Homo sapiens: one gene and its partners. The protein of the gene in region 2 purifies or fractionates together with the protein of the main gene of each other region. This does not show direct contact. Each region holds a gene or a part of one and is shown on either strand. Other genes may lie near its edges.

Region 1 (3,500 bases), on a different chromosome or scaffold from region 2:
CAGTGATTTGGCAGAGTCTCCCTCTGTTAATATCAGTGTACACTCCAGGGAATGTTTACCACCTGAGAGAAATTTAAAATTATACATAGTAAAAATTTCTCATACTTTCACTGATGAGAAAAATGAAGTCAGAAAATTAACATTAGAATGCTGACAGTGAAAGACTATAAAAGTTATTTTACATTATTGCTCAGTATAAATATTAAGTATATTTTATTAAATTCCTATCCCCTGAAAATTAGTAATATGTTGTGTATGTGATAATTTCAATGAAGTAAAATCATACTCTGAATGGAAAATCATAGTCTAACTATATGTAGAAAATAAAAAAATTCTGTAACTAAATAAAAGTGAAACTTAAATCAAAATCTTATTTAAAAATATCAATCTTACCAGCATCATTAGCATCATCCAGTTTGGGAATACCTTTGATTTTACTGTATTTTACTGATGAACACTTCTTATTCAGCTGAGTCTGAGCCTTAAATTTCACCCAGTTCAGGATACTTTCTACAATGCCACAATTAGAGGCCTAAAAATAAAAGAATAATGGTATACAAACAAGCTGAAAATTCATACATTTAGCTAAAATGTATAGGGCCTAATGCAAGACCTGGAATCTGTGCAATTTTAAGGTATTTTAGGGCAAAACAATAATGGTGATAAGCATCATGATACATGCTAATCAGCTTTTACTCAACTACTGTAAAATTAAAGCTAAAATATAAATACATGAAAAAGGATAACTTTTACATATGAGAAACATTCTATTATAATAAACTCCATGAGGAATATGCATTGCTCTTGTTACAAATTAATTTTATTAAAATTAACACAGTGAAAACAGATCCACACATGAACCTACTAGCCGGCAAATTCCAGACGTTGACATTTCTGATATCCTTCAATACAAAACGTGAGTCTTTAATTCACTATGACAAAAAGTATTAACCTAAAAGGAACATTAGGATAACCTTGGTAACTTATGAATAGACTTTTATTCTTTAAATAGCTTGGTAATAAAGATTTCAACATTACATATTGTTTGTACTCTGCAGTGAATCAATCTGTGGCAAGATGTTAACCCAGACAGAAAAAGGAAAAGAAAGTTAAGCATCTCCAACTCTAAGTCCTAAAAGTTTTTTTATCATCCTCGGTGATTTGATGTTAGGTGTATAAAACAGTTTTCTGGAATGTTTAAGACATAAACAAAAGAGGTGAACTGTGTTGTCAAATTTAAACTTAGTGCACCTAAAATGAAAAAGTATAAAATTTAAAATCAAATCACTTCATCAAGGAAACAATTGTTATGAGGACAGAAATTTGGGAAAGCATTAATATAGCATAATTTGTACTCAGAATTCATTAAGATTAGATCCAAAAGTACTATTTCTACAGGCCTTAAGTTAGAACCTAAAAAACAACTTTTGTTTTTGTTTCTGATAATCTACTTTTTGGAATTTGAGAAATACATTAGTTCTAGGGCAGTTATAGAGCATTTCCCCACCAAAATTCCAAAGAGGAGAGGCTGTGATTGATTCATCTCCATTATTTATTTGTGCTCTCACCTTATTTTAGAGAAGTTAAGGTAGCCTAAAAAAATTATGTGCAAAGCAAAGCAATTTAAGAACATGTAGAAAATAGTACATTTTGTTATACATGTTACCACAATTTTTAAACATGTATAAAGATAAGAATCAGTAGATCAAGTTGAAATGAGAGTAGAAAAGATGAAAGAGTTGCATAAGGATCTGGACATCTGTTAGGGGAAATCTGACCTTTACAATGGTCAATACAAAGCTAAAAATGCAATTAGTTACATAATTCCCTACTTTAGTTCTTGGCAAAACAATTGTTTTAGGAAACATTAAAGTCTACCCTTTAAAGTTATCAAATTAAGCATATTAGTTTGTAGTGCAAGCATGCTTATACCCACAGTTAATACGATGAAAGAAACTAATCACAAATAAAGTAAATCAAGAAAACTACCTAATCAACTCTTAATAACAACAATAAAAAAAATACAAGTTTTACTCACTGCTTTAAAAAATTTTTCTGACAGCTGGCATTTAGACCCAAAACTTTTGGGCTGCAGAGTCATGTTTTCCTTAGTCTGAGAATCAAAAGTTGGATTTTCAATAAGGCAATTAATAAAAACCCATATATGGTTTTTTACCTGTTGAAAACATACCCAAAAAAGTCAATATCAGAGCTGATATTTAGTAATTCAGTATATATATAATGCATATGTATGCATCATGTACAATATATAACACATCCCTTACTTGAAATGGTTTCACTGATACACCAGCTTTGTTCTTTTTCTTAACTACTTCAATCAGTTTACCAACAACTTGATCTACCACATAATCCACGTGCCGTCCACCCTAAAGAAAAAAAAATATATGAAATCTGAAATCCTGTATTGTTAAAGTAGCAAAATACTTTATCTGTATTATAAACCCTATTTTCTAAAAGAGTAATAGAGTCTCAGAACGAGAGTTGAGATTTTAAAAAAATAAGACATTTTGGCTACAGAGCCAATAAACCAACCGCTGTGTTTTTTTTGTTTGTTTGTTTGTTTGCTTTCCTCACTTCAATTCTAACACCAATTCTCAGGTGCTTTCAACACCAGCAACCAATTCTCTGATTCTCCAGACACCAAATGGATGTTCAACAATGTAATTCAATTTTGATACTAACTACCTGGAGTTAGCACAAGTATTTAGGGTTGGTTAAGGGCTCAATCCCACAGGACTCCCCACACTTCAGATGCCAGTTACAAGTCCTAGGCCTCCTGTACTTCTAACGAACCTATGACCCACTCCTCAGGAATGATAATTTGCTGGAACAGGTCACAGAACTCAAGAACACACTTTACTTCATTTACAAGTTTTTTATATAGGATCCAGCAATAATAGCCAAATGGAAGAGATGCATAGGGCATAGTACAGGGGAAAGGGTACACAAAGCTCCATGCCTTACCCAGACATGCCACCCTCTTGGCACCTCAAATGTATTCACCAACCTAGGAGTTCTGTGAACTCCATTGTTCAGGAGTTTTTACAGAGCTTTATCACATAGCCATAATTGATTTTTAACTCAGTCACCAGCCCCCTCTCCTCTCCCCAGAGGTTGGGGAAGGTGGGGCTAAAAGTTACAGAAAAAGGAATTTGTTATTCTAAATTTCATAAAATATAAATATGTTCAACTACAAACACTAGTCATATAAATTTATTTCTCAATAATTGTTTAAATAAATTTTAATACAGCAATTTCATAGAAAATAGGTTTTTGTTTTCATAAGTCAATTCTTATTTAACAAAAACAGATTTGGGTTTTTTGGGGGTTGTGGATATTGTTATTTGTTTTGTAGTTTTTATTGAAGTACTGTTCTACCACTGACTTGGAAACAAATAATTTGCTTACTTACTTTTGTAGTTGCAATACTATTTACAAAGCTGATTTGCTGGAATCCTTTTTCACTCAATGTGAGACAA
Region 2 (3,500 bases):
GTTAGCTCTGCGAGGTTGAGGCTGCAGTGAGCCATGATTGTGCCACTGTGCTCCAGCCTGGATGACAGCGAGACTCTGGGATTTTTTTTTTGTTTTTTTTTTTGAGACGGAGTCTTGCTCTGTCACCCAGGCTGGAGTGCAGTGGCGCCATCTCGGCCCACTGCAAGCTCCGCCTCCCAGGTTCATGCCATTCTCCTGCCTCCGCCTCCCAAGTAGCTGGGACTACAGGTGCCCGCCACCACACCCGGCTAATTTTTTGTATTTTTAGTAGAGACGGGGTTTCACCTTGTTAGCCAGGATGGTCTTGATCTCCTGACCTTGTGATCCGCCCTCCCTGGCCTCCCAAGGTGCTGGGATTACGGGCATGAGCCACTGCGCCCGGCTGACTGGGAGGTTTGCTGGAGCCCAGGAGTTCAACATTGCTGAGCTATGATCATGCCATTGCACTCCAGCCTGGGCAACAGAGCAAGATCCTGTCTCAAGAAAATATATACTCTTTTTTAAAAAGGAGAAAGGAAAAGTATAAAACTGAGAAGCATTTGTTTTGTTTTGTTGAGACAGGGTCTCACTATGTTGCCCAGGTTGGAGTGCAGTGGCACAAAATCATAGCTCACTGCAGCCTCGCCCTCCTGTGCTCAAGTAATCCTCCCACCTCACCTCAGCCTCCCAAGTAGCTGTGACTACATGTGCATGCCACCATGCCTGGCTAATTTTTTATTTCTGAGATGAGGTCTCACTATGTTGCCACGCAGGTCTTGAACTCCTGGGCTCAAGTGATCCTCCCAACTCAGCCTCCCAAAGTACTGGTATTACAGACATGAGCCACAGCATTTGGCCTGCTTTTGTATTTTTGAGCAAAAAAAGTTGACGAGAGATTGGTTAAAAGCAAGGAGTGTTGCTGCAGAACTAGAAATCCATGGTCTCAAAGTGAGAGGATTGCTTAAGCCCAGGAATTCAACACCAGCATGGGTAACATAGTGAGACCCTGTCTCTCAAAACAAAAAAAGAAAAAGAAAACAAAAATTAGCTGGGCCTGGTGGTGCGTGGCTATAGTCCCAGCTATACAGGAGACTGAAGTAGGAGGATCACTTGAGCCCCGGAGGCTGAGGCCACAGTGAGCAGTGATTGTGCCACTGCACTCCAGCCTGGATGACAGTGAGACCCCCTGTCTCTAATAAAAATAGAAAGAAAGAAATCCGTGGGCTAGGCGTGGTGGCTCACGCCTGTAATCCCAGCACTTTGGGAGGCCGAGGTGGGCGGATCACGAGGTCAGGAGATCGAGACCATCCTCGCTAACACAGCGAAACCCCATCTCTGTGAAAAATACAAAAAATTAGCCAGGCGTGGTGGCAGGTGCCTGTAGTCCCAGCTACTCAGGAGGCTGAGGCAGGAGAATGGCGTGACCCCAGGAGGCGGAGCTTGCAGTGAGCCAAGATCGTGCCACTGCACTCCAGCCTGGGCGACAGAGCGAGACTCCGTCTCAAAAACAAACAAACAAAAAAAAAAAGAAATCTGTGATCTAACATTTAGCTTTATAGGGCCATATAGGGCATATTTTATTTTTTTCAACCAGCGCTAATCAGGCTGATAAATTGTACCAAGAGAACACTTTACAAACCAGCTAAGAATTTAGGCCGGGCGTGGTGGCTCACGCCTGTAATCCCAGCACTTTGGGAGACCGAGGCGGGCAGATCTTCTGAGGTCGGGAGTTTGATACCAGCCTGACCAACATGGAGAAAACCCGTCTCTACTAAAAATACAAAATGCGTAGTGGCGCATGCCTGTAATCCCAGCTACTCGGGAGGCTGAGGCAGGAGAATCGCTTGAGCCTGGGAAGTGGAGGTTGCGGTGAACCGAGATCGCACCATTGCACTCCAGCCTGGGCAACAAGAGTGAAACTCCGTCTCAAAAAAAAAAAAAAAAAAAAAAGAATTATTCATAATAGGAGCCAAAACTGGCTACAGAAGGGCCTGCTCTGCGATCTTTGCAGATGGTATTGTGGAACAGAATGTTAATGTGGTGCAGGGTATAGAGTTAGAGCAGAGATTGCCATTGATCTTGGAGGGTTTGATGGATCGTCTTTCCTTCCTAGGGAAGCACCAGGGCCCCTCTCGCCTGAACAGACACAGATATTTTGCTCAGCAGCTTGCTGACTGTATCTTGTGAGGGTGTGGTAGGCTGTCATTTGCAGTTGCAGTACTCACAGATCACATTACCTAAAGTCTGAGGCCATTTTACTGGTGGCCCAATTGCTGAAAGAACAAGTTTCCAGAGGCCAGTTGAGCAAACAGTGGAGACCGCAGGGGCTGGGTATTCCTTACATTATAAGGCTTTCCCCTGGGTGAACTCTTCAAAGCTGCTCTCAGTGTTTCTTATGGACAGCTATTAATCAACAATGCCTGGATTTTAGGCATCTCAGGAAGGTCCAGATCCCTGGAAGGAATCCATTTGAATGGATTTCTAGCCTCTTTACTTAGGGAAGGTAGAAGACTGGATCTGTATACCCTCGGTTTTATCCTGCCTCAAGTCCCAGTCCCTACTCTGGAAAGTGAAGATGAAGCTGGGTTCACAGCTCCGTCTTTGGAACCCTTGGAGCTAGATGTATTTTGGAATTCTAGCTTAAGAGAAGTCACGTGGGGTCTGGGGAAGCACCTTGTATTTAAATAGATTAATTCTGCACTAAGTAGGACAAAGAAAGATTATAAATGTCCTTACAGGTGAAAACAGCTCCAGCGTGAGTTTTGGCACCACACTGGTAGAAAACACTTGGTGTTCAGACCCTTTTGGACCTGGGGGAATTGCAGAGTAAGGAATCTTGCCCACCTGCCCTTATTGTCTGTGGTGAGGATGAAATGAGATCATTGCAGATAAATGTTCTTAGCACCCTGCAGGGAAAGCACTTGTTTGCTGTTGGCTGCTGCTGCTGTGGTCTTAAGAGATAAAATAGAGACACTGTCAACAAATAAGAGAACGCTTACCCAGGGGGAAGGCACTTCTGTAGGTTTTTGATGTAAACAAGCTGTTAAAGGCATAGGCTTTAATTTTCAGGTCATGAGTTGGCTCTGATGGGAAAGGCAAATACTGCCTCTTATGGTATCTGTCGTAATTTCAGTGCTGAGAGAAAATTATTCAAAAATATGTATTTCTGGCCGGGCGCAGTGGCTCACGCCTGTAATCCCAGCACTTTGGGAGGCCAAGGCGGGCGGATCACAAGGTTAGGAGATCGAGACCATCCTGGCTAACATGGTGAAACCCCATCTCTACTAAAAATACAAAAAAATCAGCCGGACATGGTGGCACGCGCCTGTAGTCCCAGCTACTCAGAAGGCTGAGGCAGGAGAATCGCTTGAACCCGGGAGGTGGAGGTTGCAGTGAGCCGAGATCGTGCCACTGCACTCCAACCTAGTGCGAGACTCCGTCTCAAAAAAATATATATGTATTTCTAACTGTAGAGTTGTTGTTTTTTCTTTTTTTAATGTAGTTTTAAAGCAAGTGTCAGG
Region 3 (3,500 bases), on a different chromosome or scaffold from region 2:
ATGGTAGGAGTGAAGCTAGAGCGAAAGTGCCCTGAGAGGCCACTGGAGACCTTGACCAAGGAGGGTCTTGAACAGAGGAGTGACATGGTCTGCTCTGGCAACAGACTAGAAGGCAGGGGGTATAGGCAAAGGCAGGGAGCCCACCAGAGGCTAGAGAAATAACCCGGGGCAGAGGTGAGAGCAGGCTGGGCATGCTGGCTCACGCCTACAATCCTGGCACTTTGGGTGGCCAAGGCAGGAGGACTCCTTTAGCCCAGGAGTTCAAGACTAGCCTGGGCAACGTGGCAAGACACCATTTCTACAAAAAAACCTAAAAATTCACTGGGTGTGGTAGCATGCACTTGTGGTACCAGCTACCCAGGAGGCTGAGGCAGGAGGATTAACTGAGCCTGCAATGTTGTAACTGCAGTGAGCAGTGATTGCGCCACTGTACTCCAGCCTGGGTGATAGAACAAGACCCTCTCAGAAATAAAAAATCAAAAGGTAAGAGCTGTTTGGACCAGGGAGAAGGCAGAAGTGGTGAGAATGGTCACACTGGCTCTGTCTGGAAGGTAGAGCTGATGGGACCTGCTGCGTACAGGGTACAGGTATGAGACGGCGAGGAGTTAAGGATAAACCGAGGTTTGTGGCCTGAAAGGTGGAGCTAGCTGGCCTAGTTTCATTTTATAGGAGGGAGAAAACTGAAGCCCAGGGAGGAGAAGTCATGTCCAAAGTCACTCACTCACTCCAGGGATCAGAACACCCAACCAGTGCTTCTCCCACTGCTCCACACAGCAGCTCCGTGGGACAAGCTGATGACTAGTCCGGTCACACCGGACAGCCCCCAGCACCCTGAGGGACTGCCAATACCCAAGCACATAACATATATTGGGGTAGGATGCTGGGCACTGAGAGCACAGGCCCAGCTTAGAGAGGACAAACACAGTCCACGGCTGCCACACAAGAAAGTCAACCTAGTGTAGCCAGAAATTCCCATTTTCCCCCAGAGAACCCAAAAATCTAGATTTTGTTTTTGTTTTTTATTATGAGACAGAGTCTCACTCTGTCGCCTAGGCTGGAGTGTAGTATGATCTTGGCTCACTGCAACCTCCACCTTCCAGGTTCAAATGATTCTCCTGCTTCAGCCACCTGAGTAGCCAGGACTACAGGCACATGCCACCATGCCTGGCTAGTTTTTGCATTCTTTATAGAGATGGGGTTTTGCCATGTTGCCCAGGCTGGTCTCAAACTCCTGGGCTCAAGCGATCCACCCGCCTTGGCCTCCCAAAGTGCTGGGATTACAGGGATTAGCCACTGTGCCCAGCCCAAAAAATCTAGATTTTAGTGAAAAAAAAAAAAAAAATTCCACTTTTAAAAGGTGACTCAATTGCTTAATAACATGAGGTCAGTGAAACAAATTCCATGTGAAGGCCAAGTTCAGCTCACACAGGGCACCAGTTTGGAATTCCTCTCAAGACAGCCTAACAGACCTTGTTTGCTTATACCCTAACAGACCTTGTTTGCTTATACCTTGCCCAGGATAGAGAATTAAAGATTTGAATTCAAGATGGTCTTTTATTCCAACTTTTGAGTCAGCAGATGATATTCATTATCACTATAAATAGTCTGTAACTTCCAGTAGTCTTAGTGGGCCTCCTTTCTGACCAGAAAGAGATCAAGTAGCTGTCCATCATTCAGCTTCTTCCTTTAAAGTTAAACTTTGGTTTTATATTATTCTTTACAGAGTACTAATACTAAGATGAGCCCACAAGTACAACCAAGAATTCAAAAATTATTCCCCAGTACTGCCCAATGATCCTTTCGAAGTTATATGGAGGCCGGGCACGGTGGCTCATGCCTATAATCCTAGCACTTTGGGAGGCCGAGGAGGGCAGATCACCTGAGGTCAGGACTTCTAGACCAGCCTGACTAACATGGTGAAACCCCGTCTCTACTAAAAATACAAAATTAGCCGGGTGTGGTGGCGCATGCCTGTAATCCCAGCTACTTGGGAGGCTGAGGCAGAAGAATCACTTGAACCCGGGAGGTAGAAGTTGCAGTAAACCAAGATCACGCCATTGGACTCCAGCCTGGGCAACAAGAGCGAAACTTTGTCTCAAAAAAAAAGAGAAAAAAGAAAAAGAAAAAAAAGTTATATGGAGAATAACAGAGCTGTGTAAATAGTCACTGGTGTAGGAAGCAATTTATGCCACCCAAGAACACTGGAACTCCAATACTTTGGAACTGAAAAGGTTTCGGGACTGGGCAGGTATTCTAGTCTTGCCAAAAAAATCTAAGTTAGAAATCACAAAATGTTCTTGATAAGTTAAAGTTGCTGCCCATTGTTGACAGGTGGAAGACACATGTTACTGAATGCACATAAAGGACACACACGTCTGGTTTTGGGGGTGTCTGGTTGTCTGCTTCAGGAGACTCGGCCAGAATTTGTCTGCCTAAGAAAAGTCTCCTAGGAGGCCCCTGAACTAATTTTCTATATGCTAAGTGAGAGTGCCTCCTTGCCTAGGCACTGTCACTTAAAATTAAATATTTACCTTCCCTTACAAGCCATCACTTTCTACCTAATATCAATTTATTTTCTGTCTTTGTTACAAGTCACCATTTTGATGCTGAGGGCATTGGGTAAAAAATCTCTCCAGGAAAGGGCCACTATCTGTGTGGCCCCCCTCCCACTCCTTTTTCTTGGAATGCAGTTTACAATGCACACAAAGAGGCGGGACTAATGCTTTCTCAGGGTGAGATCTTATCAGGTGAAGTGTATCAACTGCCACTAGTCAACTGGTTTTGACCTACAGAATGGGCAATTTCATGTGGTTCAACATATTACCACATGATCAAGAGGAACAGGGACATGAATGTTTACAGAATACCAGCTGCCTCTACATCAGCACTGTCTAGAACTTTCTGTGATGGTGGAAACCATCTACAGCCACGCTGACCAACTTATGACTACTGAGCACCTGAAATGTGGCTAATTTGACTCAGAAATTGAATTTTTAATTTTACTTAATTTGAATTGTTTTAAACTTAAATTGCTACTTGTGGCTACTGTATTGGACAACACAGTTCTAGACAGTAGCTTTTTCAGGCAAGAACTAGGTCTCACTTGCGGTGTTTGAAGGCCCACCACACAGGAGACCCTCGGTGAAAAAAATGAAATGAAAAATACCTTCAGCACTGCCAGATTTTCAAAATGCCTCCCCACCTTCCTGCCACTGAAGCTCTTAATTTTGATCTTCACGTTCTGTGTCCTCCCTTGGGTAATTATTGCCCCAGGAAGGTGGAGGTATATAGCCAGGAGGGAACATTTGGAAGGCCGGGCCCACATCGCCTAGCAACTGGGCAACAGGAACTGGCCTGACAACCTTCTGACCAGCTGGACCTCCACATTCTCATCCACTGAATGGGTGACAACCATTCCCACCCCCTAGAACAGGGTTATTTTAAGGCCTAAATGTAAACCACAGTTGTGGAATCTGATTCTAAAAAGTGAACCTTAAAAA
Region 4 (3,500 bases), on a different chromosome or scaffold from region 2:
CCCAGCCACTCGGGAGGCCGAGGCAGGAGAATCTCTTGAACCTGGAAGGCAGAGGTTGCAATGAGCTGAGATCGCGTCACTGCACTCCAGCCTGGGTGACAGAGTGAGACTCTGTCTCCAAAAAAAAAAAAAAAAAAAAAAAAGCAGCAGCAGCAGCACCTCAGGCATCTTAGAATCAGGGAAAGGCCAGGAGGACAATTGGCCACGTTTGCCAAATTTCCCTTCTGGGTTTATAGGGGAGGTTGGGTATCCCTCAGATTGGGCTGGAGTTTTCAGGGTTTCTGTCCCAAAAGGCACTCCTTGCTCTCCATGGATGCTCACGGGACTTGCTGGTGGCCAGTGTGGCAGAAGAGGACACTGGCATTTCTTTTCCAAGCTCTTTACCTGTCCATCGATGGCATTGGGGCCAACTAGTAGAATGTGCTTCCCACAGAACTTCTTTTCAGGCCTTTCACTGGTCTCCTAGGAAAAAGCCAAACTATTTTGATCTGTCTGGAAGTCTTGATTTTATAATGTCATTACAAAAGGAAAAAGTCTTTGAAGTTCTGTATATGGGTGAGGTATGGGGATTGAGTATATAAAATCCTTGTAAAACATTGTGATTCAGTCACCATTAGGGGTCAGGCACTCAGGCACGTTCATGTTCACACTCTCCACTGCCCCCTGCCCAGATCACACGTGTCTCAGTGCTTTCTCCGCCCCTGCTTGTCAGTGTGTGTTGCCTTACCGTCCTGGGGCGGGAAGCTGCTTTTGGTAGCAGGTGCTGGGCTTGCCCACACAGACCACTGTCAAGACTTCCTCCCTGCCCTTGGCTTCTGCTGAGAATGACCCAGGTCTCAACTGCAAGGTCATAGAGAGAGCAACCTAGCTCCCGACATTGACTCCAAGGAGCAATGGTTTCACTCCCTTGTTAGACCTGGCCACCTTTGGAATGGGGACTCAGCCTGGGATGGGATTTTTTTGTACCTGGTGCCTCAAAGGTGGGTGAGGTGGGAAGTCAAAATGTAGCTCAGTTACTTGCAAGCAGTATGACCCTTCACTTCCTGGGCCTCAGTTTCCTCTACCATCAAACAGGGATAACATTGGCTAGAACCCGTCTGGTGTAAAGCTTTGACAGAGCACATCGTGTCAAATACCATGGACAGAATTGGGGTCCTCCATTGCTTTTTCTCTTGTCCTTTTTTGACAGGCAATATTCAAAGAGTAAGAGCACAGGTCTGAAGTTGGGCTGCCTGATGAATTACCAAATCCTGTGCCCTCCATTTCCACATATGTGAAATTAACTAATAATTATTTCTACCTTACAGGGGTTGTGAGATAAAGTGACTCAGTACATGAAGTGCCATGTTAACCGCCCTTATCATCATCATTATCAGATGCAGAAGGAGTTAGTTTGTTAGTTCAAGTTGACTTTTGGTTTCCCTCTGGCTCCTTAGTCTCAGGGAGAGGCAGTAAACCTCTTGGCTCATGCACCAAGAAAGCCCCAGGCTAATTTCAAGTCAATCACTGTTAAGACAGAAGCTGTAATTGCAGAATAAAAGTGTTAACATTGGATAAGGCTTCAAAGATCCTCCAGTCCAACCCCCCATTTTCCAGATGGAGACGCCGAGGCCCACAAACTGCAGGTGATATGTCTGGGCAAACACTGTGGCTAAGCAGAGCCAAATCCAAGCTTCCTTATCACCTGGAAGTCATGGTCTGCGCATGCTATCTCATGGCATCCTTGCCTGTTTGCTAGGGCTGTTCCTCCACCTTCCTCCCACAAATCACTTACTGTTGGCTTCATTTTTCCGCTTGCAGAAAAAGTTAGAAAACCTCAAGAGCTTAGACCTTTTCAATTGCGAGGTAACCAACCTGAACGACTACCGAGAAAATGTGTTCAAGCTCCTCCCGCAACTCACATATCTCGACGGCTATGACCGGGACGACAAGGAGGCCCCTGACTCGGATGCTGAGGGCTACGTGGAGGGCCTGGATGATGAGGAGGAGGATGAGGATGGTGGGTGACAGGGTGCGGCCCAGGGCTGCAGGGGCCCAGCTGAGGCCTTGGGGCTCGTCCTTGGCTTTGCAGAGGTGGGTGGGCTGGGTGTTGGGAGGCCCCCACCCAGCTACTGAAGGCTGGCTGTCTGTCTGGTAGCTACCACCTTCCAAAGCTATGGAGGGGAGTAGGGCTGTCTGCTTTGTTTTCCATAGTCCCTAATCTGTCTCATTGGTTGACTTCCCTAAAAGAACAAAGCATGAGTCCCATGCTCATGGAAATATCCTGAGATTCTCCAACTGCATAATAACTCCTTTAAAACCATCCAACTGAATCCCCACTTCAATTTTTGTCCCTTTTCCAAAGCCCCCAGGGAGTGGGATTCTACAGTCTTTCTGTAGTGTGACCCGCACTTAGACACTCTCCCAGGGAGGGAGGGAGGGGATAGAGAGAGAAGAGTGTGTGGCCTGAGGACCCCTCTTTCCCATCTAGGTATTCAGTAGTGGAGAGGAGGTCCAGAGCTAGAGGGGTTGTGGGGCCCCCTGGTGGTTGCAGCCTACAGCCCCACACCTAGGGGCACAGGCTCAGGTGCTCAGGAGCCCCAGGTGCTCAGAAGTGGAGGACTGCAGGCCACTTGTTGGGTTCCCTGGCAGTGTGGTGTGTAGTCGAGGCCTACAGGAAGGAAGGAGGGAAAAGAAGGGAGTCCTGTTCCCTCCCCTTCTCCCTTGCCACCAGCACAGTGCAGCTTTCCCATGCATCTTCGTGGCCAGATAAAGTTGAGAATGGAGACACTTGCCTGATTAATTAATTCAGATACAGGATTTTGGTTTTCTTTGTTCAATTGGGAGTGTTTTGCAAGATACTCAGAGACCATGTTTGCCTTGGTGGGGATCTTGTGATATGGCAGAAAGGAGCCAAAACTGGCAGTCCCGGGACCAGGTCCCCTAGGCCCAGCTCAACTAGTGACTCGATGCGTGACCTTGAACAAGTCAGTTCTCTCTGTGCCTCAGATCTCTCACCTTTAACCTGAGGAGTTTGATTTGATCTTGCCGCTTTCCCGGGCCCTGGAACCTGTTGCTGTGCTCTGACAATTTCCTGGTGGTCTCGGTGTGAGAGGCCTCCAGAAGGGGCCTTTCACATGCATAACACTTGTGAGGGGGGCTTATCTTTGGCACAACTTCAGGATGTGTTTAATTATGTCAGCACTGTTTTCATGAGAGTTAGTGTGTTCCATCTTTGGACTTAGGTGGGTGTGGGAGGGTCATGAGCCCCACACTGAAGACGCTACAAGGGGCCTGTGCTGTGTGGGGGGCGGAGCCAGCTCACCACTAGTTCTGTTTCCGTTCCCCATTTCGATTGCACAGAGGAGGAGTATGATGAAGATGCTCAGGTAGTGGAAGACGAGGAGGACGAGGATGAGGAGGAGGAAGGTGAAGAGGAGGACGTGAGTGGAGAGGAGGAGGTAAGGAGGCTGGGCTGGGCAGGGCCACCGTCTGCCCCTTTGAGGCAGTCCCACTGACTG
Region 5 (3,500 bases), on a different chromosome or scaffold from region 2:
GGTCGTTTAGAAAATGTTGGTTCAGTGAGTTATGCAAATCTAAACGTTGACCTTTCAGATGCCATTATACGGTATTTAAAAAATCACATTTGTTAATATCACCACCTATTTCATTTTAAAAAGGAGTTTAAGTATTAGGAAACTATCAAACTCAAGGTAATGGAAACAAGTTTTCAACTTGTTTTCACTTGACAGCTTGAATTTTAACATTGGCAGCAAATATTGTCAGCTGTTTCCTTGAAGTGACAGACTCACTTATTTCATATTTGAGAAAATTTCTGCCAAATTCCCAAGACTGAATAACCAAAATTTGTCTATTATTTTATTTACTGCCATGTACTCACATTTAAAACAAACAAACAATTATTTTTATTTAAGAATGTCCTGATGGTTGGGTTCAGTGGCTCACGCCTATAGTCCCACCGCTTTGGGAGGCCAAGACAAGAGGATCTCTTCAGCCCAGAAATTCAAGACCAGCTTCGTCAACATAGTGAGACTCCATCTCTACTAAATAAATAAATAAAATAAATAAATAAATAAATAATAGTCAGGCATGGTAGCATGCACCTGTGGTTCTAGCTGCTAAGGAGACTGAGGTGTGGGGATCACTTGAGCCCAGGAGGTCAAGACCAGCCTGGGCAACTTAGTGAGACCCCATCTCTGTAAAAAGTAAAAAATTAGACAGGTATAGTGGCTCGTGCCTGTAGTCCCAGCCACTCAGGATCAGTTGAGCTTAGGAGGTTGAGGCTACAGTGAGCCATGACTGTGCCACTGCACTCCAGCCTGGGCAAAAAGACCTTGTCTAGAGAGAGAGAGAGCAGGGGGTGGGGTGGGGGGAGAGAGGAGAGAGAAAGGAAGGAAGGAAAGAAGGGAGGGAGAGGAGAGAGAAAGGAAGGAGGAAAGAAGGGAGGGATGGAAGAAGGGAGGGAGGAAGGAAGGAGGGAAGGTTTCTAGTACATTGTGGTAACATTGCCTTGATTCAGACTGCAAGCAGTTTTACCCACCATTGCTTTGTGTCATAAGTACAAATGTCAACACAGCCAGATGGGGTGGCTCACGCCTGTAATCCCAGCACTTTGAGAGGCCAAGGTGGGCGATCACCTGAGGTCGGGAGTTTGAGACTAGCCTGGCCAACATGGTGAAACCCTGTCTCTACTAAAAATACAAAAATTAGCTGGGCATGGTGGCACATAACTGTGGTCCCAGCTACTTGGGGGAGGCTGAGGCAAGAGAATCGCTTGAACCCAGGAGGCAGAGGTTGCAGTGAGCCAAGATCATGCCACTGTATTGCAGCCTGGGCAACAGAGTGAGACTGTCTCAAAAGAAAAAAAATTCAACACAGTGAAATACTCTTCAAATTATGATTAAAATACTTTTGTCTTTGTGGACCCCTCCTTCTCCCAGGATCTGCACCTTTGAGAAACATTGCTACAGTCCATTTTCAGGAAGGCTGCTTTGTGCCTTCTAATGAGCATCTCTGTACTTGCAGTCTTAGGACGTTATTGTAGCCTAGTAGAGGGGTATGTTCATTTTCAGATTGGCCCCCAAAAGGAAAAATTTATTCTCAGAAGTGTTTACCCTAGGGTCATATTTGACCTCCAAAGAATCCCATTTTCTGTTCTGATTTTTTAAACTTTGATTTACACTTTTTTTTTTTTTTTTTTTTTTGAGACAGAGTCTCGCCCTGTCACCCAGGCTGTAGTACAGTGGCGTGATCTTGGCTCACTGCAACCTCTGCCTCCCAGGTTCAAGCGATTCTCTTGCCTCAGCCTCCTGAGTAGCTGGGATTACAGGTGCACGCCACCACGCCTGGCTAACTTTTTTGTTTTTTGTTAGTAGAGATGGGGTTTCACCATGTTGGTCAGGCTGGTCTCGAACTCCTGACCTCAGGTTATCCACCTGCCTCAGCCTCCCAAAGTGCTGGGATTATAGCCATGAGCCACCGCACCTGGCCCTGATTTATACATAATTTTATAGGCACATACCTATTTATTGGATAAAGTGAAGCATACCTTATTGTGATTCTAACTAACTAGGTAAGCCAAGCCTGGCCTTATTAGAAAGATGTTTACTTCCTACGTTCACAAAAGCTTAAATGTCTAGCAGATGCCCTCCAAACTGGACTGTAATTTAGTTTATTCGGCATGTCTTAATCACCATAGCTTTTCACAACCCTTTCCCTGGCCTTTTGATTTTGACTTTGGGCAGGTCCTATCTGTTTCTGTGATGCAGTGTAATGTCCTTAGGTTTGGGGGCCAGATAGCCCTGGATTTGAATCTCTGCTGTACACTTTGACCTCTCTGAGCCTTGGTTTTCCTGTCAGTAAAATGGACATGATAATGAAGCCTACCTTGTTTTGTGGCTTCAATGAAACAATGCATCAAGTCTGGCATATAAAAAAATGTTCCTGGCTGGGCGCGGTGGCTCACGCCTGTAATCCCAGTACTTTGGAAGGCCGAGGCAGGCAGATCACCTGAGATCAGAAGTTCGAGACCAGCCTGACCAACATGGAGAAACCCTGTCTCTACTAAAAAAATGCAAAATTAGCTGGGTGTGATGGTGCATGCCTGTAATCCCAGCCACTTGGGGGGCTGAGGCAGGAGAATCGCTTGAATCTGGGAGGCAGAGGTTGTGGTGAGCCGAGATTGCGCCATTGCACTCCAGCCTGGGCAACAAGAGCGAAACTCCGTCTCAAAAAAAAAAAAAGTTCCTACAGCCAGGCGCGGTGGCTCATGCCTGACTTTGGGAGGCTGAGATGGGTGGATCACGAGGTCAGGAGTTCAAGACCAGCCTGGCCAAGATGGTGAAATCCTGTCTCTACTAAAAATACAAAAATTAGCCAGGTGTGGTGGCGGGTGCCTGTAATCCCAGATACTCGGGAGGCTGAGGCAGAGAATTGCTTGAACCTGGGAGGCGGAGGTTGCAGTGAGCTGAGATTGCACCACCGCACTCTAGCCTGGGCCAGTGAGTGAGACTCTGTCTCAAAAAAAAAAAAAAAGTTCCTATATAGTAGCTGTTGTTATCATTATCTGCAAATAGGCAGACTTATTCCACACAGTTGACAGAAGAGGGAAGCGTGCTGATGAAGCTCTCTAGCAGATGATAACTTTTGTAATTAGCACACTCTTTGCTTAAGAGAAAATCCAATGTTTGACATTTTTTATTCCATGAAGGTACATTGGCAGTGTGTGTTTTCTGCCTATGAAAATGTTCGCCTTTCTGTTAAAGTTGAATTTTCCCCAGTACTTTAAAAATATGAAATGGTTTAGGAAAAAAAATTCTATTTCATTTTCAAGGAACATAATAATTAGACAAAAGTTCAGCACATTGATATAATTAGAAAGGATTTGGAAGTTGTTCATTTGCTTTTCACTGCTCCCCTAGAGCAAATATTCAACATTTCCCTTGTTTATACTGTTCATTTGCTTAGCAAACTTTCTCAAATAATTAATAATGCCAAGATGATATTTAGCCTCACTTGTCCAAATAATCCCAGACTG
Region 6 (3,500 bases), on a different chromosome or scaffold from region 2:
CAATATGTTAGTAGTGAGCTAGTACCTTCCAGAATTCCAGGTTCTAGAGAGTGGTTGTGGCAGAGTAATTGTGTATATCTAGGGCTGAGCAAGAACCAAAAACAGAAGGGGTGTGAGGTAGCCTCAGTCTCAGTGTTGGTCTGTCCAGTGTGACTTACTGAGTGCTATGATGACCATTCCAATCTCCCTTCTCACCTCTGTTTCCTCTTCACACACTGGCCTTCTCATGATTCCTGACTGTACTAGACATCCTCTTTCTGCCTGAGAATTTTGTTTTCTTTCTTTCTTTCTTTCTTTTTTGAGACAGGGTCTTGCTCTGTCACCAAGGCTAGAGTGCAGTGGTGTGTCATAGCTCACTGCAGCCTTGACCTCCTGGGCTCAAGCGATCCTCGCACCTCAGCCTCCTAAGTAGCTGGGACCACAGGGACATGCCACCATGCCTGGCTAATTTTTTAATTTTTTGGAGAGACAGGGTCTCACTGTGTTGCCCAGGCTTGTCTTGAACTCCTGGGCTCAAGCGATCCTCCTGCTTCAGCCTCCGAAAGTGTTGAGATTATAGGCATGAGCTACCGTTTCAGTGTTCTCTCTGCCTGGGTCACTTCTACGTTTTTCCCGGCTGGCTTCTTCTCATCCATTTTTTTTTTTTGAGACGGAGTCTCGCTCTGTCACCCAGGCTAGAGTGCAGTGGCGCAATCTCGGCTCACTGCAAGCTCCGCCTCCCAGGTTCATGCCATTCTCCTGCCTCAGCCTCCTGAGTAGCTGGGACTACAGGCGCCCACCACCACACCCGGCTAATTTTTTTGTATTTTTTTAGTAGAGACGGGGTTTCACCGTGTTAGCCAGATTGGTCTTGATCTTCTGACCTAGTGATCCACCTGCCTCAGCCTCCCAAAGTGCTGGGATTACAGGCGTGAGCCACCCCGTGCGCCCAGCCCTTCTCAACCTTTAAGTGTTTGCTTACGGGACACTTCCTCCAGAAAGCCTTCCCTGGCCTCCCAGTCTAAAATAGGTCTCCTGTGTTCTGTCTCATGGAATTAGTTTCTTCTCCTTTCCAACATACAGCCCAGTTTGTAATTATGTATTTATTTGTGTTTTGATGTGTTTGATGAACGTCTTCTCCAACTAGAAGTAAACCATGTTTATTAAGTAACTGCATAATCAGTGCGTGGCTCATTGTAGATGCACATTAAATATTTGGCAAAGGAATGAATGAAAGTCCACCATGATTCTACTGATTTCTTTCGTGGCCTTCTCTGTAACTGTACTGATCGGTTTTGGTTGTGGTTGTTAGATTGTTGCCTGCCCTGATGTGCTTCCTCGGAAGATGGCAACACCTGGAGCAGTGCAGGAGTCCTGCAGCCCCCATCCCCTGACCGTGGACACCCAGCCTGAGCAAGCGCCACAGAAGCCTCGTCTCCTGGAGGAAAATGGTGAGGCTCAGTGATTCAGTGGAACTGATATAGCTCAAGAGTGGGTGCCTTGGCCATGTGGCAGGCACTATCTGCGGGAGAGAGACTCTAGGCTGAGCAGCCTCTCTACAGCCTGCAGGGTCTAGAAGCAGGGAAAGGCCAGGGACCTGGAGTTGAGTCCCTGGTGTTCAATGAAAGCCATTCCTAGAATGGCTAGGAATTACACCAGCTTCTTTTTTTTTCTTTTATTTATTTATTTATTTATTATTATTATACTTTAAGTTGTAGGGTACATGTGCACAATGTGCAGGTTAGTTACATATGTATACATGTGCCATGCTTGTGTGCTGCACCCACTAACTCGTCATCTAGCATTAGGTATATCTCCCAATGCTATCCCTCCCCCCTCCCCCCACCCCACAACAGTCCCCAGAGTGTGATGTTCCCCTTCCTGTGTCCATGTGTTCTCATTGTTCAGTTCCCACCTATGAGTGAGAATATGCGGTGTTTGGTTTTTTGTTCTTGCGATAGTTTACTGAAAATGATGGTTTCCAATTTCATCCATGTCCCTACAAAGGACATGAACTCATCATTTTTTATGGCTGCACAGTATTCCATGGTGTACTGCCACATTTTCTTAATCCAGTCTATCATTGTTGGACATTTGGGAAAGACACATGCACACGTATGTTTATTGCTGAATTACACCAGTTTCATTAAAAACCTACAACGCAAATGATGACAGCTCTGGGTACAGGGACTGTTAAAAGATCTACACGTCTTTTACAAAAGTATCACAGATTTTTGCCTTTCTGTCATAGATTGTCTTTCTTTTATTTTTGAGACAGAGTCTCACCCTGTTGCCTGGGATGGAGGGCAGTGGTGCGATCTTGGCTCACTGCAGCCTCTGCCTCCCAGGTTCAAGTGATACCTCCACCTCAGCCTCCTGAGTAGCTGGGACTACAGGTGCCTGCCACCATGCCCAGCTAATTTTTGGATTTTTAGTAAAGATGGGGTTTCACCATGTTAGCCAAGCTAGTCTTGAACTCCTGGCCTCAAGTGATCACCTACCTTGTCCTGCCAAAGTGCTGGCATTAGAGGTGTGAGCCACTGCGCTCAGCCTCCCTCATAGATTTTCTTGTCTTAATGCTTATGTTAAAAAAACAAAAAAACAAGGCCGGGCTCAGTGGCTCACACTTGTAATCCCTGCACTTTGGGAGGCAAAGGTGGGTGGATCACCTGAGGTCAGGAGTTCAAGACCAGCCTGGCCAACATGATGAAACCCCGTCATGATGAAACACCGTCTCTACTAAAAATACAAAAAATTAGCTGGGCATGGTGGTGCGTGCCTGTAATCCCAGCTACTCAGGAGGCTGAGGCATGAGAATCGTTTGAACCCAGGAGGCAAAGGTTGCAGTGAGCTGAGACCGTGGCACTGGACTCCAGCCTGGGCAACAAGAGCAAAACTCCGTCTCAAAAAAGAAAAGAATACTGTCACACAATGCTTTTAGCAAATTTAGTCCTTCTAGCAAAATGTGATGGTCCAGAATCTCTTATTATCTTATTATTACAAAATACTGTGTGATGAAGTCCTTGCTGTTGAATGACTCACAAGATAAGAATGCCATTTCCCTTTTTGAAATTAGAAATACATTGTTCATCATTGATTCTTGAGTTTAAGAAAATTTATCTAGGATGTTATCATTTGAAACTCATTCTAGAATCTCTGTTACACTTTCAGTTTCATGATTCTCATTAGAGAGTACAGCTGTCTTTCTGTGTCATCTACTGAGTTGCCTAATAATAGTCATCCTCTTCAAATTTTCCTCTCTTTGCCAATGTGGGCAGCAAATGAAAAATTTGGAATTCTCAACCGTGTTCAATGAAAGCTAAACAAAGGTGTTAGCGATCTTTTTGGTATAAAAGAAAGTAGCTTCATGCCTGTAATTCCAGCATTTTTGGAGGCCAAAGCAGGTGGATCTCTTGAGCCCAGGAGTTTGATACCATCCTGGGCAATGTGGCGAAAACTCACCTCTACAAAAAATACAAAAATTGGCCGTGTGCAGTGGCTCATGCCTGTAATCCCAGCAC
Region 7 (3,500 bases), on a different chromosome or scaffold from region 2:
TGGCTGAGATCAAGTGCAGAAAGCATGGAGCATTTTATGTTGTTACTTTATTTCTATACTGTTTGGATTTAGAGGAAAATGAAGTAAAATTAGTTCTCTTTTTTTTTTTTTTTTTTGACAAAGGCTCATCCTGTTGCTTCTCCTGCCTCAGCCTCCTGAGTAGCTGGGACTACAGGCATGCACCACCACACCTGGCTAATTTTTGTATTTTCAGTAGAGATGGGTTTTCACCACGTTGGCCAGGCTGGTCTTGAACTCCTGACCTCAGGTTATCCACCCGCCTTGGCCTCCCAAAGTGTTGGGATTACAGGCGTGAGCCACCACACCCAGCTACTTATTCTTTATAATCTTTCATTTCAGAGCTCTAAATCATCCCTTTTAGTGAACTCAAAGATTTTAAAACCCCTTGAAACCAGTGTCTTGGGAATGATGAATGAATCTCTTTATTTGTTTTATTTTTCATGTACCAGTATTTTTATTTTCATGAAACTTTTATTTAAAAGTTGGGTTAGTATTTACTTCTTACTAAAATCTGAGTTAAATGACATTTGTGAAAGTGCTCCACACCCAAAAAAACACCCAATAAATGTTTCCTTCTAATGTATTCAATGCCTATACCCCCAAATATCTTACAAGTAAGATTTTTGTATAATCTGTATCATATCTAATTTTAAATTATGGTAAAAATATTAACATGCCATCTACCTTCTTAAAATTTTAAGTGTACAGTGTTATTAACTGTAAGCACAAGGTTGTACAGCAGATCTCTAGAACTTTCTTCTCCATTTGTTTTTTTCTTACCTCTCAAAAACTGTAAATAGTGTATTTTTTCGAGATAAGTTGGGGAATATTATTTCCCCAACTTTGTTGATAACCAAAAGAAGTTAAATTTGTTTCATGTAATTAATCAGTGAGTGAGCTGCATTCAAAAGGGAAGTAATGGGCCGGGTGCGGTGGCTCACACCTGTAATCCCAGCACTTTGGGAGGCCAAGACGGGCGGATCACGAGGTCAGGAGATCGAGACCATCCTGGCTAACATGGTGAAACCCCGTCTCTACTAAAAATACAAAAAATTAGCCGGGCATGGTGGCAGGCACCTGTAGTCCCAGCTACTTGGGAGGCTGAGGCAGGAGAATGGCGTGAACGTGGGAGGCAGAGCTTGCAGTGAGCTGAGATCGTGCCACTGCACTCCAGCCTGGGTGACACAGTGAGACTCTGTCTCAAAAAAATAAAAAAGGGAAGTAATGATCAACTGTGTCCAAGTTCTACTTTAAGTGTGTGTAATATTCTCTGTAGACTTTTCCCCACAGACTTGTTTGAGATCTTCATTGACATAGGGCATTATGTACGTGATATCAGTGCTTATGAAGAATTGGTATCCAAGCTGAATTTATTAGTGGTAAGTCCTGAGTTTTCAATATTTTGGCAGGCTGCTATGTAGTCAGGATGTAATTTATCACAGAAACCCATTTCCTTTTTATATTTTGATTAGGAGGATGAACTGAAGCAAATTGCTGAAAATATTGAAAGCATTAATCAGAACAAAGCTCCTTTGAAATATATAGGCAACTATGCAATTTTGGATCATCTTGGAAGTGGAGCTTTTGGCTGTGTTTACAAGGTGACTTTCCCCTTGGGGAACATTTCTGATACTCCCAACCAAACCGGATGTCACACTTGCACACCGATATTCAATTGAATTAGAACTCTTGTCATTGAAAAATAGCAAACAGATATGAAAATTAGAATGATTGTTTTTGTCCAACAGAGATAGCCACACTAATATTGTTTTAGCTGTAAGCTCTAGAAATTGGCCACTGACTTTTTAAGACAAAAGGCATTATTAATCTCTCACAAAGGTATTCAAAATAGTTTCTCCCAATGCATGATGCAATCTCTAAATTAAAAAATGCTACTAAGTATTGCAGACTGACCCAGGGGATACCAGTGTTTTGATGTTTTGAGCTGAGCTTAATGTAAATACAGCTGGAACTTTAAATGCTCTGTGACTTATTTATATGACTTAGTTACTCATGTGACTTTGTTAGTCTATCTCTTTCTTCCTCTTTCTCTCTTCTCCTTCTTTACCCTGTTCCTTTTGTTGTTGTTGTGTTTTTCTTTATTTTAGGTTAGAAAGCATAGTGGTCAAAATCTTTTAGCAATGAAAGAGGTCAATTTACATAACCCAGCATTTGGAAAGGATAAGAAAGATCGAGACAGCAGCGTAAGGAATATTGTTTCTGAATTAACAATAATTAAAGAGCAGGTAAATGTTTTCCTTGTTTCTGAAGATGTTTTTCTTAAATACATGTCATTGCAAGAAAGTAGAGTTGTGGTGCTCTTGTCCATGCTGCTTATGAACTAGTTCCATGTGAAATAATTGACACTGAAGCAGTGATATTTTTGCCAGCTTTTTTCCTAAGGCTTGACATTGAAGCATAAAACACTGTCTGGAGTTTATATCAGGGTCATGGATGCAAAACAATCGGATTTACAGTACAGAATGCATCATATATGAGAAATCCTTTTCTTTTCATTGTGAGCATATCTATTCTTTTCTCCTTATATTTTAGGATATTTGGTTACTTAGTTACATACATAGAAATATGACTAAGAGTTTCTTGACTTTTGCCAAATGGAACCAAGCTGTTAACATTCCTCAAATATGACTTTATTAGATCTAAAATGTAGATTTTCAAGTTGGGTTATTATGTATTGGCATGAGCAGAATACTCTGATATAATGTAACAGCTCAATTAACTCTCATTATGAAAGTTTGTTTGAGGAGGAAGAATAAACATTTCAAAGAGAAATGGAATTTCTTTGTGTGATCCAAGAACACATTGGTTTCTTTTTCAGCCTTCCTTATTTGCACATTCATCACGAATACTGTTCATTTATAATTCCTGTGGTGCACTATCAGCTTTGCTGCTTTTGTCCTCCACTGGTCACATTTGCATAGCATCTGTGTTGGGATGTAACAAATTCCATAAACAAGGAGACCTTTGTTCATAAAAATCGATAGTTCTACTCCAGTGTGTACATTATAGTAAATATTATCATTAATTGTTTATTTTATAGTTGATTTTATATACTAATAGACTAGACTTTAAAAAGTTTGTTCATGTGTAGTTTGTTCATGTGTTTGTATGGTCATCTAGCCTTCCACAGTGTGCTCTTTCATTGTAGCACAAGGCTAGAACAGGGCTTTTGACCTAAGCCAGTCCAGTGTTTTCATCTGGACCCAAATTTGGTTTTAGTCCTTGTGGGTGAGCCAGGTCCAGAATATGGTTCTGGTTGGTTACCTGGTCACATATTGCTTACGATCTGCTGGCCACTTGCTAGTTGATGCAGTAGATTATTTGTTTTAGCACATTTCCTAAGAAAAGAAACTGTCAAACTAGGGTCAGATAGGAAGCATATGCTTGGGCTTTGAGGTAACTCAAAATTGCCCTCTCACTAGAGGATCAAACTGATGGAAAGGATGATAACATTGAGT

The links.
Region 1: the proteins of AKAP8L (region 2) and TOP2B purify together in Homo sapiens (tandem affinity purification; one large-scale study listed by IntAct). This does not show direct contact.
Region 3: the proteins of AKAP8L (region 2) and RRBP1 purify together in Homo sapiens (tandem affinity purification; one large-scale study listed by IntAct). This does not show direct contact.
Region 4: the proteins of AKAP8L (region 2) and ANP32A purify together in Homo sapiens (tandem affinity purification; one large-scale study listed by IntAct). This does not show direct contact.
Region 5: the proteins of AKAP8L (region 2) and KATNIP purify together in Homo sapiens (tandem affinity purification; one large-scale study listed by IntAct). This does not show direct contact.
Region 6: the proteins of AKAP8L (region 2) and ZKSCAN5 purify together in Homo sapiens (co-immunoprecipitation; one large-scale study listed by IntAct). This does not show direct contact.
Region 7: the proteins of AKAP8L (region 2) and NEK10 purify together in Homo sapiens (co-immunoprecipitation; one large-scale study listed by IntAct). This does not show direct contact.

The regions. Positions count from the first base shown.
Region 1 is NC_000003.12:25,630,408-25,633,907, forward strand, and holds part of TOP2B (DNA topoisomerase 2-beta), read right to left. Parts: coding exon 3,434-3,500; intron 2,388-3,433; coding exon 2,286-2,387; intron 2,177-2,285; coding exon 2,039-2,176; intron 533-2,038; coding exon 394-532; intron 63-393; coding exon 1-62. UniProt on the Homo sapiens protein: Key decatenating enzyme that alters DNA topology by binding to two double-stranded DNA molecules, generating a double-stranded break in one of the strands, passing the intact strand through the broken strand, and religating the broken strand.
Region 2 is NC_000019.10:15,412,489-15,415,988, reverse strand, and holds part of AKAP8L (A-kinase anchor protein 8-like), read left to right. Parts: intron 1-3,500. UniProt on the Homo sapiens protein: Could play a role in constitutive transport element (CTE)-mediated gene expression by association with DHX9. Increases CTE-dependent nuclear unspliced mRNA export.
Region 3 is NC_000020.11:17,675,743-17,679,242, forward strand, and holds part of RRBP1 (ribosome-binding protein 1), read right to left. Parts: intron 1-3,500. UniProt on the Homo sapiens protein: Acts as a ribosome receptor and mediates interaction between the ribosome and the endoplasmic reticulum membrane.
Region 4 is NC_000015.10:68,782,896-68,786,395, reverse strand, and holds part of ANP32A (acidic leucine-rich nuclear phosphoprotein 32 family member A), read left to right. Parts: intron 1-1,800; coding exon 1,801-1,999; intron 2,000-3,342; coding exon 3,343-3,440; intron 3,441-3,500. UniProt on the Homo sapiens protein: Multifunctional protein that is involved in the regulation of many processes including tumor suppression, apoptosis, cell cycle progression or transcription. Promotes apoptosis by favouring the activation of caspase-9/CASP9 and allowing apoptosome formation.
Region 5 is NC_000016.10:27,553,144-27,556,643, forward strand, and holds part of KATNIP (katanin-interacting protein), read left to right. Parts: intron 1-470; exon of another isoform or gene 471-490; intron 491-3,500. UniProt on the Homo sapiens protein: May influence the stability of microtubules (MT), possibly through interaction with the MT-severing katanin complex.
Region 6 is NC_000007.14:99,511,162-99,514,661, forward strand, and holds part of ZKSCAN5 (zinc finger protein with KRAB and SCAN domains 5), read left to right. Parts: intron 1-1,291; coding exon 1,292-1,430; intron 1,431-3,500. UniProt on the Homo sapiens protein: May be involved in transcriptional regulation.
Region 7 is NC_000003.12:27,289,384-27,292,883, reverse strand, and holds part of NEK10 (serine/threonine-protein kinase Nek10), read left to right. Parts: intron 1-1,297; coding exon 1,298-1,400; intron 1,401-1,493; coding exon 1,494-1,622; intron 1,623-2,129; coding exon 2,130-2,267; intron 2,268-3,500. UniProt on the Homo sapiens protein: Plays a role in the cellular response to UV irradiation. Mediates G2/M cell cycle arrest, MEK autoactivation and ERK1/2-signaling pathway activation in response to UV irradiation.